Linked DNA regions of Homo sapiens. The protein of the gene in region 1 interacts with the protein of each later gene in a biochemical or structural test. Each region holds a gene or a part of one and is shown in the gene's direction. Other genes may lie near its edges. The genes, in order: SMAP1 and ENG.

What was found.
Region 2: the proteins of SMAP1 (region 1) and ENG interact on a protein array, tested with the Homo sapiens proteins (one large-scale study listed by IntAct).

The regions. Positions count from the first base shown.
Region 1 is NC_000006.12:70,666,329-70,670,950, forward strand, and holds the start of SMAP1 (stromal membrane-associated protein 1), read left to right. Parts: upstream 1-1,554; 5' UTR 1,555-1,695; coding exon 1,696-1,813; intron 1,814-2,201; exon of another isoform or gene 2,202-2,300; coding exon of another isoform or gene 2,301-2,388; intron 2,389-4,622. UniProt on the Homo sapiens protein: GTPase activating protein that acts on ARF6. Plays a role in clathrin-dependent endocytosis. May play a role in erythropoiesis.
Region 2 is NC_000009.12:127,844,659-127,848,158, reverse strand, and holds part of ENG (endoglin isoform 1 precursor), read left to right. Parts: intron 1-1,023; exon of another isoform or gene 1,024-1,216; intron 1,217-3,500. UniProt on the Homo sapiens protein: Vascular endothelium glycoprotein that plays an important role in the regulation of angiogenesis. Required for normal structure and integrity of adult vasculature. Regulates the migration of vascular endothelial cells.

The DNA.
Region 1 (4,622 bases):
TTCTACTGTCAATTTGCATCAAGGCCAGACTACTTTGTCTGGCTTCCCAAGTCTTCCATAACCCTATCATAGTTTACTTATGCAGCCTTATCTCAAAAGTAGTACCTTTTGTTCCAGTCTGTTTTCCAAGGTACTTCAGGTCTTCATGCTTTTGTGCAAGCTGCTCTTTCTTAATATCTCCCTCCCCAGTCCCCATCTAAATCCAGCGTATCTTCAGGACAAGGCTCGTAAGTTCTACCTCCCACATAATGTTTTTTTCTGTTCATTGGAACTCACCAATATCTCCCTAGTAGTTATTTGTCAGAGCTATGTAGTATAAGCTCTAATTTGTTTAATTACTGAGCATCTTCATTGCCATATCCATTCAATTTAATTCCAGAAACATTTTTGAGCCCCTGTGCCAAGAACAGGGCTAGGTAGCAATGAGGGTCACTTTTATGCAGGGACAGGGGCTAGAAATTGGCCTTACTAAGAAGTGTAAGACCGACTCTTGCTCATTGCCTTTCTTAGCATCTGCTTCATCGCAGGCAAGGACTGTGTTTATTTGGCTTGCATAAGCCCCATATTAGAACTTCCTCATAATATACAACATGCCAAATCATCGAAACTGCGTCACCCGGAGTTCAAACTTCATGAGCCTGGATTAGGGTCTGGGTTCCAATGAAAAGTGTTTTCTTTAGTTCTCTTTCTCTTGCATTAAGGATCACTATTTACACAGCTTCTTGTTAAAGTATCACCGCCTAGTACTTGGGTTCCTGGTCACACTTTCCCCCTTATGGAAGGGCTTACTGCCAGGTCTTTCAGACTCTGGAGCCAGACTGCTTTGGATTTAAATCTCAACTCCTCCACTAGTAGTTCTGTAATCTGGTCAGGTTACTTAACTCCTCTATGCCTCACTTTCCTCCCCTGTGTAATGAGGATAACAATATCATAAGGTTGGGGAAAGGGTTAAATGAGCTAACAGTTCGTTTAACAGAGTAATCACTCAATGAAATGTTATCCCCTAATACATGTCACTACTAGATTATTTCTCGCCCTTAAAATGTAAGAGACCGTTTTTCCTCTTTTCTTCCATCCGTGTCTCCAGCTTCTAAACTGCAGGCGAATAAACCTCGAATGAGTAAATGAACCCACCCAGTCGCTAGTTATTTCTGCATTTCCAATGTTGTGCCAGCAAGAGCAAAGGCAAATGGGCAAGTCAAAGTAGGCTTCTTGTAAAAGGTCTTCCATTACTGGGTTTTACTAGAGGCCCTTGCGGACCATCACATCTCAAAAGGGGGGAAAGCTCGTATGAGGCAGTGCCAGCTACCTTTCGGGAATCACCTTGGGCAGAAGGCCTTTTTGCAAAAAGACTCGGCAGCCCGGGCCCCGTAGGTTCGGCGCATGCGCAGCGCGCTCGGCGCCCGGGTTCCTTCCTCCGCGCCACCCGGAAGCCTCGGCGCGACCCAGTCCCCCTCCCCCTCCCCTCGCCGGCTAGGGTGGTGCGTGCCGGCAGGCCGGTCAAGGAGGCGGGACACGTCGGCGCTACCACCGCCACCGCCGCCGCCGCCCCTCCTCCCGTTCCAGCTGCCGCTGCCGCTTCCTGGGCTGAGTCCGCCCGCGGTCCCGGCGGCGCCAGGTGCGTTCACTCTGCCCGGCTCCAGCCAGCGTCCGCCGCCGCCGTAGCTGCCCCAGGCTCCCCGCCCCGCTGCCGAGATGGCGACGCGCTCCTGTCGGGAGAAGGCTCAGAAGCTGAACGAGCAGCACCAGCTCATCCTATCCAAGCTTCTGAGGGAGGAGGACAACAAGTACTGCGCCGACTGCGAGGCCAAAGGTAGCTTGGACGTCGTCGCTGCCCACGGTCGGGGCCTCTTGCGACCGGTGACCTTCCCGCCGCTGCGGCGCTCGGGGCCCGAGCGGACGCCTCGGCTTCGCTGGCCGGCTCCTGCCCTGACTGGAGGGCGGGTGGCTGAGCGGGCGGGCGCGGGGCTCCTGTCGACCCTCAAGTCCGCCAGAGGCGGCGGCGAGGTCAGGCCCGCAGGCCCTGTCAGTGGCCCCAGCCTCCCCTCCTCCCAGACACGGGTTTGAGCAGGTGCCAGGGTAGCGATGCTCGGACCCTCCACAGGGCTGGGGGTAGGAGCGAGGCTGGGAGCGCGGAACCGGGCACGGGTCTGGGCAGAGCTTAGGGTTAGAGAGTTGCCCTCCTAGCTCTGCTCATAGCTATCTCTGTGGGTGGGGCCGCGCTTAGGTCTGGATCCCCTCCTCTACCCTCCGGTGTGACCACGTCCTCCCACTCCGGGCTCGGATTCTTGGTCTCCTAGATGGAGCCCTACCTGCCTGCCCACCTGACAGCTTTTGTACAAGGCTTTTATCTCTGCTTCCTGAAAAAGAGTATGGTGGTCTTTTTCGGTGGGTTTGAGTTTTACGGAATAAATTAATTGGAGAAAGGTCTTTATTAGTAGTAGTATTGTTTTTTAGTCTGGTTATTAGCCAGAATGAAGAGGAATTTCATTACATGAGTCTCTTGGAGGACGGTGGGTTTGTATTTCTGAAGATTTTAGTAATTAGGTTTTCTCTGACCAGCTAGTTTGGGAGAATATGTGGACACTGATTTGTGTACCTCATAAATGCTGAAGGTTCATTTTAAAGATCTAGAGATGGAAAAAACCTAATTTTAGTTTTTTCGGTTGGAGGGCTTCTGCCTCAGCCTTTGAAACAGATATACTATTTTTAGCTGCTATGTTTTGTGTTTGGAGATCTGATTTATGTTTAATGTCTTGTAAGTAATCTCAAGGGAAATATTTCTTTTTTTTTTAAAGAAATGTCTTGTGTAGTTAAGAAAAGATCGTGTATATTTTTAATTGGTTTATTTCGTTATTGGGTGAGAAATAGGGTAGTTCTCTAAAGCAGGAGACAGTCTCTTTGGGGAATGTCCTTTAAGATTTCTGTGTTATTTGACTTAGACTTTTCCTGAAGCTTTACTGTTCTATCTCAATACTATATAAATGAGTCACATTTCAGTAGGCTGATAATATTTGACTAGACTGAGCCACACAGCATCAGCAGGTTACTTCACTGTCGTAACAGGTACTGAATTACTAGAAGAATCATGCGGGAATACTGTAACTAGATTATTTTTATGAAGCACTTTTCAATATAGTAACTTGATTGAGTCAAGATTATATTTATCCTATGTAACCTTTTCAGGTGATGAGTTTTTACAAAGTCCGTGCCTGGTTCTTGTAATACTTGTTTTCCTAGTAACTTGATTGTGTGTGGTTATTTGGGAGTTCTGCACTGTGTTTAGGCTCAGTTGCTTGCTCATTGACTGCACTAGCAAAACACTGAAAAATGGTCCTTTAAAAGGCCAAGAAGAAGAAAGAAGCTGAAGCTAAATAGTACACATTTTGTCATTTTGAGTAATAACATGGTTAAGTAGAGATGCTGGTAAATATTAAATCTGTTCATTAAAAGTCGAATAGTAACAGTTTCAGAATTAACCTTCCTTCATCTACAGACTTTATTAAAAATAATTTAATTTTTGTTCAAATTTCTGTCTCCAAAAAAGTACTTTATAAAATCAGATTTTCACTAATGCTTTCTAAAATAATACAGATTTTTAAAAGCCATTATTAACCATGTTAACTTTTTTTTTTTTTATTTACTCTTTTGAGGTGGGGAGAAGAGAATCATGTACTTCTTAAATTAGGATCAAAAGTTTTACTTCTTTGGACCTGAAGAATAGGAAGTATTCGTTTTGCTCAGTGTTTGTATTGCCACGGAAATCAGTAGATATATATTGAATGAATGTCTTTTGTATTTTGGTTTTGTCTGGCCTTTTGTTGGTTTACTTGTTTTGAGAAGTGAAGGAAGTGGGAGAGAAGAGAATGGTATCAAGAGTACAAGGGTGCAGCTTGAAGGGCATGAACTCCACAGTATAATTTACAAGGATTATTTTTTTCTTGTTGCTACTAAATCTAGAAGAATATTAAAATGATCTTGTAAATAATTTCATTGTTTTATCTTGATCTTTCAGGCAAAAAATCACAGGTAAGGCCACTTATTGATTTAATTAGACTTGATTTCATGGTTGTAATAATTGAAAAATTCGACATGATAGAGCAATTGATGTAAATATATTTTCACAGTTTTTGAGTATTTGGTAAGGTTGAAGTACATTATGGAGGCTTTTTTAGTAGAATTCTTGGCTTGTTACATGATTTTGGATCTATATGCTAGGATGACATAATAAATATAGTACTTTTAAAAGATATGTTAAAGGTCTTACTCTACAGCTCAGTTACTAAGAAGTTTCATTCTGTGTATGTATTGATGTTTTCTTCACTGTCTAGTAAATTGCATCAAACTTTTCATGTACTGTATTTCAAAGTTATTTCCTAGTTAACTCAATTTTCTTTCTTTCAAAGAAGCTTCTTCCACTGATCTTTGAGAATATGTACCAAAACTAAAGCTTAGGATTTGAGGTGCCTGTATTATCTTGCCTTATCATAGTTGGTAGAGGTATGTCAATTGGGTTTTGACATTTTCTTACTGAATCACCAGCTGTGTTTCCTGGATTGACAGTATTTAGGAAGCAACGAAGGAGAAAAGGATGGCATAGGCGCCAGTTTCCTGCTCTTGAT
Region 2 (3,500 bases), on another chromosome or scaffold:
CCAGTTCCTGAGCAACCCCCACTTAGCAGGAGCCGGCCTAGCGCTGTGCAGGTGTAATTTACTGGCCTGCTTGCCGACTCCATGGGAAGCTGTTATGATGACCCTCATCCCCATGTTACAGATGAGAACACTGAGGATGGAAAGGCAGCTGGCAGGTGGAAGAATCAGGACCTGAACCTTTGGCATCTGTCAAATCGCTGTGCTTTTCACCTCTACTGTAGGCTGCAGTGCAGGAACTTGACCCTGCAGGCATCGTAGAACCAGGGGGGAGCCCGGGGCCAAGGCATGCTGAGACCTCCTGGTGGCTGGGGGCAGTGGCTGGGCTGGATGCTGGGAAACCTGTGAGGCTGTAATTGGGCCTGAAAAGGGTAAAGAGTGGCCCGGGGGTACTGAACAAGACGGGGCAGGCATTGCAGCAAGAAGGACCCTTGTTGAAACGTATCTTCCTTGGGAGGCTGAGATGGGTGGATTGCTTGAGCCCAGGAGTTTGAGACCAGCCTGCGCAATACGGCGAAACCCCGTCTCTACAAAAAATACAAAAATTAGCTGAGTGTGGTGGTCCACTTGTAGTTACTCAGGAGGCTGAGGCATGAGAATCGCTTGAACCTGGGACGGGGAGGTTATAGTGAGCCGAGATCGAGACACTGTACTCTGGCCTGGGTGACAGAGTGAGACTCTATCTCAGAAAAGAAAAGGGGGGGTGGCAGCGGGAAGAAAAGTATCTGTCCTAGTATGATGAAATAATATTCACAGCTTCTGTGTCTGGGGCACCTACTTAGTACCAGGCACTCAACAGGGGTTACCCCATCAAACTGACACACTCAGCCTGTGAATGCCTGCTGCTTGCTGGAGCCAGACTGTCTGGGTTTAAATCCAGGCCGTGACACTTAGTAGCTGGGTCACCTCGGGCAGCTGGTCTTCAGTTTCTTTAACCGCCCTGGTCTTCAGTTTCCTGGAGTGTGCATGGGTGTAATAGCGCCGCCCACCTCACAAGGCTGCTGTGAGGATCAAATGAGTTCACTCGTGTAAAGCTGCCTAGGCTCCCAGTAAGCATGATGGGAGCATCTGCAGTGATTATTGGTGGTCTGCAAATGGGGAAACTGAGGCTCAGAGAGGTTAGGCTTCTGCTCAAGGTGACCAGCATTTTAAGAGGCAGAGCTGGGATTTGATCCAGGCCATCTGGCTCCAGAGCTGTTTTTCTTGATCATCCTCCAAGGTGCTGAAGGTAGCCCTCTGGAAATCTGGGAGGTGCTGTGTGCACATGGGTGGCGAGGGTGGAGAGGGGACAGTGGTGGGAGGTGGCTTCTGGGTCTCTCACTTGGGGTTCCAGTCACCCAGGCCCCCAGCGGCTCCTCCTCTGACCCAGTCCCGGGAGGCCCTGGCGTTTCCCTTGGTGCCAGGGGATTGTTTTCAACTTGGTCTGGGCCCGCCTCAGGCTCCGGGAGACAGGCCCAGGCGTCACACTCCCTCCTGTCTCCCCATTCTCGTCTGCGGGGTGGGGGCGGCCAGGATTCGAAAAGGCCCCAAAATAAATGGACCTCTTATCTGATCTCCCCGCCAGGCCTGTTATCTGATCATTACATAATGGCCAGGCTTGTGGCCTCTCCCGCTGGCTGACGGCATGGAGGAGGCGGCCCCAGGCGGCCCCAGCAATCCGGGAGGAACTGGGGTTCCTGGAAGTCTGGGGAGGGGGCAGGGAAAGTCCCAAAGGGAAGGAGGGAGGCGCTGCGATAATCTGCAGGCCAGACACTGGGTCATGTTGGGAGACGCGGGTCCGAGGCCCGGCCTGGTCAACCATGTGCTGTGAGACTTTGACCTGTCCCGTCCCTCCAGACCTCAGTCTCCCCATCTGAGTAGGAGGGGCTTAAGCTAGGTAACAGCCAAGGAACCTGCGCTCACCGATGAGGAAAGGAGAGGGTGGGGAGAACATGGGGGCTGGTGGGTCAGAGGGACTGGAGACAGGAGATGGCACCAGCCCTTGATTTTGTTGGGGTGAGGGAGATCCCAGTGACCTCTCCATCCCAGAGGACCGTCACCTGGAGGCCACCCCATCCCGCCACTTCACCCCACCCCTTAGAACAGTCAATTCTACAGTGACTGAAGTCAGTCAAATAATTGTAATTAAGAGAAAGCTGCCGGCCAGGCATGCTGGCTCACTCATGGTGGCTCACACCTGTAATCCTAGCACTTTGGGAGGCTGAGGCGGGAGGACTGCTTGAGCTCAGGAGTTTGAGACCAGCCTGAGCAACATAGTGAGACCCAGTCTCTACTGAAAATTTAAAAAATTAGCCAGGCGTGGTGGCGCACAACTGTAGTCCCAACTACTTGGGAGGCTGAGGCAGGAGGATCGCTTGAACCCAGCAGCTCAAGGCTGCAGTGAGCTGTTATCACACCACTGCACTCCAGCCCAGGAGACAGAGGGCAACCTTGTCTGAAAAATAAACAAATAGAAATTTAAGAAAGAATTGCCATGTGCCCAGTCTCATGGAGTCCTCCCAGCCACCTCTGTGGATCATGTGGGCTCTGTTGTCATTTTATAGACCAGGTATTGAAGCCCCAAGAGGTGAAATCATTCACCAGAGCCACATAGCTGGTAAGCATTGGGCCTGAGAGGCAAACCAGGTCAGCCTGGCTCCAGGGAGCTTGCTTTTAACCAAAATGCCACTATGTCCAGGCACTCCAGAGTCCCTGGGACATGTAGGATAGGGTCAGAGAGACGACATATAAGGCCTGGGCCCCCGTGGCAGCCAGAAGTCCTCATCCAGATCTTCTCCTTCCCAAGACAGAGCTGGGAATGGCGTTGCCATGGCAAGGGGTGACCATCTCACTTCCTTTGCTGACTTCTGGGGCCCAGAGCCCAACGTGCTGTGGGAAGGTGAGGAAGGAGGCCGGTGAGGCTCCAGACAGCCCAGGGTTCAGAAGAAGCCTCCCTGCCCCCTCCTCTGAGCCGGCCTTGGCTGGACATGAAGCCAGTCTCTCCGCGCCCATCTTTGATCTCCAAGAAAACAGGAAGTGAGCGCGACAAGATGGAGACACAAACTTCCAAACAGTCTCCCCTTCTGTCCTCCTTCCCTCCTCCGGAGCCCCCTTCCCCCGGCACATTCCTCAGGACGAGGTGTAGGAGCCTCATTTCCTTTTCCGACCCTGCTGGGTCAGGGTGAAATTCCATTCCTTTCCCTCAGGACCTGTGTTTCCGGGCTCTGCGGTCTGCTCTGGCAGCCTCCAAACCTGGGCCGCCTTCTCGGCTCGCCCTGTCCCTTGGGGCTAGGGAACTCTCAACCCCTTCAGACCATTCCTCCCACCACCTTGAGGCAAGAGAGGGGAAGCTTTGTCTCCTGAGCTCAGCTCCTGCCTTACCTGGAGGGAGACTTGGGTTCACACCTAGGCCCTGCCATGAAGTTAGGGTTGCCAGATACATCAAATGAAAATCAGCCGGGTGTGGTGGCTCATGCCTGTAATCCCAACACTTTGGGAGGCCGAGGTGGGAGGATCTCTTGAGT